3 linked regions of the Homo sapiens genome follow. The protein of the gene in region 1 interacts with the protein of each later gene in a pairwise test. Each region holds a gene or a part of one and is shown on either strand. Other genes may lie near its edges.

Region 1 (3,655 bases):
GGCTAGTTTTTTTAGAGATGGGATTTTGCCACTTTGGCCAGGCTGGTCTTGAATTCCTACACTCAAGCAATCCACCCAACTTGGCATCAGAAAGTGTTGGGATTATAGACGTGAACCACTGTGTCTAATGTCTAATTCAACTGTTTTACTTCACTTCTCCATATGCACATTCTACCAGTGCACTCTAACTTCAAGTTGAGTAAGAAACAGAGAAAGTAGCTATGAGTTGCCTTATGTTTCCAATCCCTTGTGTGTGATCATTTTCAACACAAGTGGTTGGCTAATAAGAGGAACTTGAGCAGGAAATGCGTTGACCGGGTTCCTTGGCTGTTTATGCTAAGACATTGTCTTCTGAGTTCAAATCAAATTCTGGGTCCAAATGGACAGTGGTGTCTCTTGGGGCTGTCAGTGTCCCAGATCACTCAGATGTAAATGTGTTTAATATGGAAGAGGAGCACAGAATTCTGGTGAACCCACAATGTGCAGTGAAACTCAAAATGAGTATGAGGAAAGTTATGGAAGTTGAAGGGCAAGCATCACAAATACCATTTACAAAAGGATAGGCATATTGCATGTATCTTCCCTGTGCTGGACAAGGGTTGTGTGCAGCTATGTAGGGCACATGCTCATTAAGCTGGCCTTAATTGTGAAGGTTCTGTGGTAATGAATGGTGGAAATGCTATTCCTAAGGAAGGATGGGCCATCTCTACACACCCAGATGGTCTGTGGCTGGGAGCATGGCAGAGGCAATCTTGGGCATCCATGGAGATGTTCCGGTGTCATTTTTCAGGATCCCAGATTTTCCTTACGAAGGGTCTGACCTCTACAAAATAGACATGCATTGGCTGAGCATTCCAACATCTGTAGAGCTCTGCTACAGGCCTTCAGCCCACATATTTGGGCAATAATTCTGCCTTCTATCCAAGAAGATAAAGGCCTTGTAAGCACTCACCAGGGAGTCCTGGTTTACTTAACCATTAACTGTTTGCTAATGGCTGAATGAAGTCTTCAATTTCTCAAGGTCCTTCTGCAGGTGGTAATGCAGATCGGCGATAATCAGTCTACTCTGCTCTTTGTAGGCACTTTCCCTACATTTTCAAAGGCCTGCATCATCACATCTGCCACAGCATTCTCTATCATTGAGGCATTTTCTCAGGAAATCACCTGTGAAATATTTTGCAGCTAACCACCTACCTGTGCCCCACCAGCCAACATGCTTTACTCCTGCCAGGCAGGTGAGTGGTCCCCAGATCCCTATTTTACCACTTGTTTTGTCAGACTGTTCTTGGTATCAGCTGTGTTGGAGGGAGTTCTCTGCAAAGACCAATATGGGACTGCATATACAGAGATTTTATTTCCAGATATGACTGTGAGAGAATGATGAGGGGAGCAGTTACTTAGTCTATTTGAGCTGTTATAATAAAATACCACTGACTAGGAAATGTATAAAGAGGACTTTATTTTCCCAGAGTTCTGGAGGCTGGGAAGTTCAACATCAAAACATCAGTAGGTGCAGTTGTCTGTTGAGGGCTCATGTCTGTTTCCAAGATGATGCCTTCATGCTGCATCTTTTGGAAGGGAGGAGCATTGTGTCCTCACAGAGCAGAAAATAGAAGGGCCACAGGACAAACTCCCTCTATCAAGCCTTTTCATAAGGGCACCTGATCCCATTCGCAAAGCTCTATCTTCGTGACTTGACTTAATCACTTCCCAAAGGTCCCACCTCCTAATACTTACACTGTTTCAACAGTAAACAGTTTATGTAGAGTTTCAACATAAATTAAGGAGGGGACAAAACATCCAAACCAAGGAAGGCTGGGAGGGAAGCCAGAGGGAAAGTGCAAGAGGAGGTTTGGTGGAGGTGTCCTAGATTGTTTGCAGTCCAAGGAGGTTGGGGAGAGTGTAACAGGCCTGCCTTGGTATCCCTGCTCTGCAGTCACTGGCTAAGAGCAGTCCTTAGAAAGCACAGCCTGGCACAAATACAACAAGAATATGTGCTCAGTAGGAAAGAGACCACATTTCCCCAATAGCCCAGGTAATGCCCTCCCCTCAACTGGCATCTCTGTTCCCTAAACATTGACCTCTTTTCTCTGAATCTCTTGGGGACACATGGGTTGAATTCAGGTTCTCTGTAGCCCTCTGGATTCTGTCTGCCTCTGTTATATCTTCACGAACAAGTTATGCAGCCTCAACTAAAGCTTGTAACAAAGCAAAGTTACTCTCCTGAGTGTGTCCTCTGATGGATGGTGAGATATAACTTCAAGATGAAGCCTCACCCACACTCCCTGTACAAAAACGCTTCTCACGTAAGTGTCTCTTTAAGTGCTTACTGTAGTATGACTTATTGCTAAACTTTCGTCCACACTCTTGGCATTCATAAGGCCTCTCTCCTGTGTGTATTCTTTCATGCACAGTGAGGTCTGACTTACTGGTATAGCCTCGCTTACACTCCTGGCAAACAAAAGGCTTCTCCTTTGAGTGTATCCGCCAGTGGTGTCTGGTGAGACTTCTCTTCCAGCTGAAGCCTTGCCCACACACATTACACACGAAGGGCTTCTCCCCTGAGTGTGTCCTCTGGTGTGTGAGGAGATTTCCCTTCCAGTTGAAGCCTCGCCCACACTCCTTGCATACAAAAGGCTGCTTGCCAGAATGTGCAAGCTGGTGTTTCACAAGATTTGACTTCCAGATAAATCCTTGCCCACATTCACTACAGATGAAAGGCTTCTCCCCTGAGTGTGTCTTCTGGTGGAAGAGGAGAGTTGATTTTAGGATGAAGCCTCGCCCGCAATCCTTGCAATTAAATGGCCTTTCCCCCGAGTGTGTCCACTGATGTCTAAGAAGATTTGCCTTCAAACTAAAACTTTTCTCACACTGCTTGCACATGAAGGGCTTCTCTCCTGAGTGTGTCCTCTGATGTATGGTGAGATTTGGCTTCAAGGTAAAGCCTCGCCCACAATCCCTGCAGAAAAAACGTTTCTCACCCAAGTGTGCCCTCAGGTGCTTGTTATAGGAGGACTTATCCCGAAACCTTCGCCCACACTCCCGACATCCATAAGGCTTCTCCTCTGAGTGTGTCCTCTGGTGTAAAGTGAAGGTTGACTTTTGGATAAAGCCTCGTCCACAGTCCTTGCACACAAAAGGCTTCTCCTCTGAGTGTGTGATCTGATGTTTCACAAGGGTTGACTTCTGAATAAATCCTTGCCCACATTCTCTACAAACAAAAGGTTTCTCCCCTGAGTGTGTTCTCTGGTGGTAGACAAGAGTTGACTTTTGGCTAAAGCTTCGCTCACAATCCTTGCACACAAAAGGCTTCTCCCCTGAGTGTGTTCTCTGGTGTCTGAGGAGACTTCCTTTCACGCTAAAACTTTGCTTACACTGCCTGCACGCAAAGGGCTTCTCCCCTGAGTGTGTCCTCTGGTGTGTGATAAGGTGTGACTTATTGCTAAAGCCTCGGCCACACTCCTGGCATCTGTAAGGCTTCTCTCCTGAGTGTATTCTCTTGTGCACAACGAAGTATGACTTATTAGTATAGCCTCGCCCACACTCCTTGCACACAAAAGGCTTCTCCCCTGAATGCGCCTTCAAGTGCTTGTTGTATGAGGACTTATCGTTAAACCTTCGCCCACACTCCTGGCATTCATAAGGCTTCTCTCCT
Region 2 (3,655 bases), on another chromosome or scaffold:
AGATAAGATTGAAAGCACCTCAGCAAGAGCAGATTCAGTTCTCAATATTCCAGCACCCCTCCACCCAGAGACAACTGTGAACATGACCTACCAGCCTACAACACCCAGTAGCAGTTTTCAGGATGTTAGCGTGTTCGGTATGGATGCGGGGTCCCCCTTGGTAGTTCCACCCCCTACTGATAGTGCACGCTTGTTGAACACGTCCCCCAAAGTGCCTGACAAGAACACTTGCCCCAGTGGGATCCCCAAGCCTGTCTTCACACATTCCAAGGACACACCTTCCTCGCAGGAGGGAATGGAGAACTATCAGGTTGAAAAAACAGAGGAGAGGACAGAAACTAAGCCCATCATTATGCCCAAGCCCAAGCATGTGAGGCCCAAGATCATCACCTACATCAGGAGGAATCCCCAGGCCCTGGGCCAGGTGGACGCCTCGCTGGTTCCAGTGGGGCTTCCATATGCCCCGCCCACATGTACCATGCCTCTTCCCCACGAAGAGAAGGCAGCAGGTGGTGACCTGAAGCCATCTGCCAACCTCTATGAGAAATTCAAGCCAGACCTGCAGAAGCCAAGGGTCTTCAGTTCCGGATTGATGGTGTCTGGAATCAAGCCCCCGGGACATCCTTTCAGTCAAATGAGTGAAAAGTTTTTGCAGGAGGTAAGAGAATGTCATTATGATATGGTCTATAAGTTGACTGTCCCAATATCTGTGACATATTTTCAATGAGTTATGAAAGTAAAATGTCCTCTTTAAGTGAATTACAGATTTTCATGGATACACTTGTGAAGAAATGGAGTTTTTGACTAGAGGAGATTGTCTAGAGAAATGACCATTTTTAACTAGAAGAGTCTGATTATCTTAATAAGATGTACCCAATATCTAAGGAGACCCATTTAAATTTCACTTGCTATAATTCATATGAAATTAGATGAGTATGCCTTAAATAGGCTTCCATGTTTAAATAAGTGAATATAATATAATATAAGCCAGGTTAAAGGAAGAAAGAATGCAAAATTACTGTGTTCTTCAAATAGATCAGACTCATTCCTCAATGGGGAGTATTTTCTACCTGGGAGTATCTCTTATTCGCATGCGTGAAGAACAGCAAATGAGCAGAAAACGGTGTGTTAGGCATGGACTCTTTCTTTAAAATAAAAGTAATAATTACAACTAACATATAATTGAGGGCCAGCTCTACACTGGGCCCATATAATACAGCGTTTGATCTTTGTTAATCTTCACTAATCCTTGCAGTAATTCCCTGAGGGTTGGTATTGCAGTTTTTTGTTTGTTTATGTTTTTTTTGGCTTTTTCTTTGTTTTTGAGATGAAGTCTCGCTCTGTCGCCCAGGCTTGAGTGCAGTGGCGCGATCTCGGCTCACTGGAAACTCCACTTTCTGGGTTCACGCCATCCTCCTGCCTCAGCTTCCCTAGTACCTGGGACTACAGGCGCCCGCCACCGCGCCTGGCTACTTTTTTGTATTTTTAGTAGAGATGGGGTTTCACCGTGGTCTTGATCTCCTGACCTCGTGATCCGCCTACCTCGGCCTCCCAAAGTGCTGGGATTACAGGCGTGAGCCACCGCGCCCAGCCGGTATTGCAGTTTTTATCACCGTATAGATACAGAGACAGACAGAGAGCTTTAAGTCACCCACCACAAAGGAAGGAGAGCTCTGAGAGTCTCACTCAGGCCTGTGCAGTTTCAGACTGCACTGTGCTGTCCTTTTTAGCTATGGTGAGTCATCCTTCGAGACCTCAGAACTAAGATTTGTCTCCTGAAGGAGTCTCTTCATGACAGCTGAGTGATCAGTTAAAAGTAAGGCAGGAGCCAAGGACAGCGGCTCACACCTGTAATCCCAGCATTTGGGAAGCCGAGATGGGCAGATCACAAGGTCAGGAGATCGAGACCATCCTGGCCAACATGGTGAAACCCCGTCTCTACTAAAAATACAAAAACTAGCTGGGTGTGGTGGCATGTGCCTGTAGTCCCAGGAACTGGGGAGGCTGAGGCAGGAGAATTGCTCGAACCCAGGATGTGGAGGTTGCAGTGAGCTGAGACCACGCCACTGCACTTCAGCCTGGCAACAGAGCGCGACTCAGTCTCAAAAACAAGGGCAGGATGAGATCATCCTGTCTCTAACACCTTCCAGGGCTGCCCAGGTTGCTTGGAACACAAGCTGGAGCCTGTAGGATGGCTCTGCCTTTAGGATGGGATGTGCTCACTGGGGGTCCGTCAGCTACCTGCCCTCCTCTCCTTCCACTCTCCCTTTCTCACTCTGCTGCTTCAGGACCTTTGCACCTCCCTCTGCTTGGAATGTTCTCCCAGTTATCCAGATGGCTCTCTCCCTCACTCCCTTTAGGTCTGTGTTCCAATGTTATCTCCTTGGGAAGGCCACCCATCTTCTCTCTGAATCCCTTTTCTCTGATTTATTTCTTCCTAGCACCTACCTCCACCTGCCATAAATACTTTTTTAGTTTTCCTGAATTGACTATAATGTAAACTCCATGAGGGAAGGGATTGTTTTCAATATTTTGTTCCCCGTGTTCCCAGAATTTAGAATGGTGCTTCTTATAAGTATGTGCTCAAAAAATGTTGAGTGATAACTGAATCATGAACTCCATATGTGTTGGAACTAAACAAAAGTGTACCAAGGGTTTCTAGAGATAGGATGATTGAGTCCAAATTTGGACTCTAGCTTGGTTAGATATATTGGCATATTTAAAGAATGCATCAATCACAACAGAAGTTGTCATATCTAGCACAAAGACAAAGTTGAATCCATTCTCGGCAGCAGACATTGACTTAGGCAATCACTGACGAGGTGCCCCAACAAGCCGACCAGCTGTGCTGCCTTGCCGCAGGTCCTTAGCAACCAAATCACACAGCTTGCTCCCTGTGTTCTGACTCTGGGCCTGCCAACAGGCCTCTGATTATAACGGACTTCCTACCTCACATCTCTAGAGAGAGGATTCTGGCTGGAGAATTCAGGGGTCCAGTCAGCTTGGCAGGGGTTTGTCTTGCTGTGCGGGGCTGCATGGCATCTTGTTTATAAGTGGCTTCTTACTCTGTGCCCTGCAATGAGAACGTGTTCTGGCTAGAGGACACTTGAGTCTGGCTTTAGGCAGTGGTCTCCAATTAAAAGTGAACAAATTGCCCTTCTGGATTTTTACGTCAGTCTCTGAGTTTAGTTATAGTGAGTCATTTTCAAATTTCTAAACATTCATCCACCTGGGCCTCTGAGGCTCAGGGTCAGGCTCTGAAGCTTTGCTCTTCTATAAGGCAGGGAATCACTGCAGAGGTTCCATGAAGAGACCTGTCAGTCCATTTGTGTTGCTATGAAAGAATACCTGAGGCTGGGTAAATTATAAGGAAAAGAGGTTTATTTGGCTCATGGTTCTGCAGGCTGGAGAGGAAGCATGGCACCAGCATCTGCCTATGGTGAGGCCTCAGGCTGCTTCCACTCAAGGGGGAAGAAGAAGGGGAACCACGTGTGCATTGATCACGTGGTGAGAGATGAGCAAGAGGGGAGTGGAGGAGGTGCCAGGCCTCTCTTTAAGGACCAGCTCTCATGGGAACTAATAGAGCAAGAACTTGCTCATTACCAAAAGGAGGGCACCAAGCCATTCATGAGGCATCTGCCCCCATGGCCCACAC
Region 3 (3,280 bases), on another chromosome or scaffold:
CTTGCAATTTTGTATCCAGAATTCCAAGCAAATGCTTCCTGTGGCATTTTTTTTTTTTTTTTGGAACAGAGTCTTACTCTGTTGCCCAGGCTGGAGTACAGTGGCGCGATCTCAGCTCACTGCAACCTCTGCCTCCCAGGTTTAACCGATTCTCCTGCCTCAGCCTCCTGAGTAGCTGGGATTACAAGTGTGCACCATTTTTGTATTTTGTTTTGTTTTTAGTAGAAACAGGGTTTCACCATGTTGGCCAGGCTAGTCTCAAATTCCTGACCTCCAGTGATCCACCTTGAGTCTCAGTCTCCCAAAGTGTTAGGACTGCAGGCATGAGCCACCGTGCCTGGTCTTGTTGACTGTTCTTTAAGGCTGTAATAAGGCACAGAACTGGGCTGAGGCTGTGGCTGCAGCCCTTTCCCTCTACGTTGTCCCCATAGAGGCTAGACATTTTAAGGTCAGTGGAGCACTACCAAATCAAAAGAGCCTCTTAAATTGTCTTCTACTAAAAAATTTTAATAGTAGCATATTAATATTTTTAAATGTTTTAGTATCATCTCATTTCAAAAACTATATCTATTGTTCTTATATATAAGAAAAACAATGATTTTATTTTAAGTTGTTTATTTTAAGATAATTTACAAATATCTTGCTGTCTTCAGTAATTCAAATAATGGAGGAACAGTTTCTTCGGACAAAGGCAGCAGTAAGCTAAAAACAAAATCAACTGGCTGAATTTTCCTTCTTTACCTGAAAAACAAAGTACAGAACAAGTAAGAAATCAAACAGCATTTTTTGGGAAAATAATGTCAAGAGATAATAATACATATTTAAGTGGGGTACAGAGAACTGAATTTACACAATAAAGTGTTACCCTATACCAGTGATTCTAAAATTTTGGTCTGGGGAACCTTTCATGGGGTTCATGAGGTCAAAACTATTTTCATGATAATGTTATTTTGCCTGTTATATTCTCATTCTCGAGTATACAGTAGAGTTTTCCAGAGGCCACATGATCCATGACATCACAACAAAATGAATAGAGACAGATGAAAATCTAGCTGGCTTCTGCTACATGAATCAGACATTAAGGGGTCCAGAGACCATAAAGTGTGACAACCACCACTCTTCACAACCTATATATAATATCTCAAAATAATGTTAATTCTCTATCCTCAAAGTTTATTTCCTTATATCTACATTTTCTATGATCAACACACTCACTACAAAAAAGTCCACTAGCGTTGCCCAGGTGCTCCCGTGAGTTGGCTGCTACTGTGAAGTGGCCCATCCATCTAAATCTCTCAGAGGACAATTCTAGGATTACTAAATTAGCTTAACTTATATCTGAATAGGTTTCTTTTCTGAACAGACATGGGAAGAATGTGTGAACTTTACCTCTTGTCTGAGGATGGAACTTGATTTTCATTAATCCCTGGTTATTATATTAGAAGAAAAAGACAAACACAAAACAAGCAGGTCAAGAAGCAATCCATGCTAGTTAATCACATATGCTTTCCAATGAAAAAAAGTCAATTGTTAAACTTGATACCTTGAGTACATCATGCAAAAATACTTACCACAAGATTCCTTTGAAACAGACTCAATGACTGTTATAAAAAGTCATAGATTTCAATCCAGGTTAGAAGCAATAAAAACATGCTCATGCAAGTAGGCAAGACTATGAATATGTAATTTAAATTACAATTTTTCTATAAATTAACACAATATATTTAGAGGTTTTTTTTTTTTTTGGAGATGGAGTCTTGTTCTGTTGCCCAGGCTGGAGTGCAGTGGCGTGATCTCAGCTCACTGCAACCTCCTCCTGGGTTCAAGTCATTCTCCTGCCTCAGCCTCCCGAGTAGCTGGGATTACAGGTGCCCGCCACCACGCCCAGCTAATTTTTGTACTTTTTTAGTAGAGACGGGGTTTTGCCATGTTGGCCAGGCTGGTCTGGAACTCCTGACCTCAGGTGATCCACCCGCCTCGGCCTCCCAAAGTGCTGGGATTACAGGCATGAGCCACTGCGCCTGGCCATATTTAGTTTTTAGGCTGGCAACTAATACTTGGACCTCGAATACTATGGTTTACTCATGTTCTTAATTATATTACTAAATAGCCAAATATGTTTATTTTGTTTTTTGATCTTTTTCTTTTCCAAGTATGTTTAAATATTCAAGTCTTGATTCAGAATAACTGATAGGTTACAGAGCATGCAAACCCATTCACAAGCAATCCAACCTTGGCACTGCATAGCTAAGTTTTTGTATAAGGATTTAGACTACCTTCCTAGGAAGCAAAAACTTAATACTCAATTTCCAATTATGTGGATTCCTTTTTCTAAATTCTTGGTTTTGTGCAGTGGCACGATCATAGCTCACCGCAGCCTAAAACTCCTGGGCTCAAGCAATCCTCCTGCCTCAATTTCCTGAGTAGCTAGGACAACAGGCACATGCCACCAGGCCTGGCTAATTTTTTCATTTTTGTAGAGATGGGGTCTTGCTATGTTGCTCAGGCTTGTCTTGAACTCCTGGGCTCAAGCAATCCACTCGCTTCGGTCTCCCAAAATGCTGGGATTACAAGCATGAGCCAATGCACCCAGCTGTTTCTGTTACTTTTAAATAGGTTTCCTGCATTTCTTTTTTTTTTTTTTTTTTTTTTTGAGAAGGAGTCTTGCTCTTTTGCCCAGGCTGGAGTGCAGTGGCGCAATCTCGGCTCACTGCAAGCTCCGCCTCCCAGGTTCATGCCATTCTCCTGCCTCAGCCTCCATAGTAGCTGGGACTACAGGCGCCCACCACCACGCCCAGCTAATTTTTTGTATTTTTAGTAGAGACGGGGTTTCACCGAGTTAGCCAGGATGGTCTCAATCTCCTGACCTTGTGATCCGCCCACCTCTGCCTCCCAAAGTGCTGAGATTACAGGCGTCAGCCCCTGCGCCCGGCCAGGTTTCCTGCATTTCTAATGAAGAAATAGGCTGGTCCTCAATTTTGCAGAAGTTGTATCATCATAGGTCATACCTAACATTCGTTTGTCAAGAGCAAAAAAACCCCCTTGGGTTCTCTGGATCTCACACAGCCCACAAACCTTCAGAATGTGGTTCCTTCCCGCAGGCTTTGTCACACTTAAGATCCAAGAACAAATCAGCCTGGCTTTAACATGGGGTAGATGGCAAGAAGGATAATGGCTAATAGAAGGTTTTAGTCCTTGTATTAGTCCCCATGTTACAGATGACAAAGCTGAGTAACAGAGAGAGTATCCTAACCAAGTTCATCAAGCTAGACACCATGAG

The links.
Region 2: the proteins of ZNF337 (region 1) and MTUS2 interact in binary tests that used the Homo sapiens proteins (3 or more experiments, as listed by UniProt).
Region 3: the proteins of ZNF337 (region 1) and ATP5F1C interact in a two-hybrid assay, tested with the Homo sapiens proteins (one large-scale study listed by IntAct).

The regions. Positions count from the first base shown.
Region 1 is NC_000020.11:25,672,773-25,676,427, forward strand, and holds the end of ZNF337 (zinc finger protein 337), read right to left. Parts: coding exon 2,260-3,655; 3' UTR 423-2,259; downstream 1-422. UniProt on the Homo sapiens protein: May be involved in transcriptional regulation.
Region 2 is NC_000013.11:29,026,246-29,029,900, forward strand, and holds part of MTUS2 (microtubule-associated tumor suppressor candidate 2), read left to right. Parts: coding exon 1-658; intron 659-3,655. UniProt on the Homo sapiens protein: Binds microtubules. Together with MAPRE1 may target the microtubule depolymerase KIF2C to the plus-end of microtubules. May regulate the dynamics of microtubules at their growing distal tip.
Region 3 is NC_000010.11:7,805,120-7,808,399, reverse strand, and holds the end of ATP5F1C (ATP synthase F(1) complex subunit gamma, mitochondrial isoform L (liver) precursor), read right to left. Parts: intron 1,427-3,280; coding exon 1,420-1,426; 3' UTR 1,390-1,419; exon of another isoform or gene 1,384-1,389; intron 742-1,383; coding exon of another isoform or gene 738-741; 3' UTR 599-737; downstream 1-598.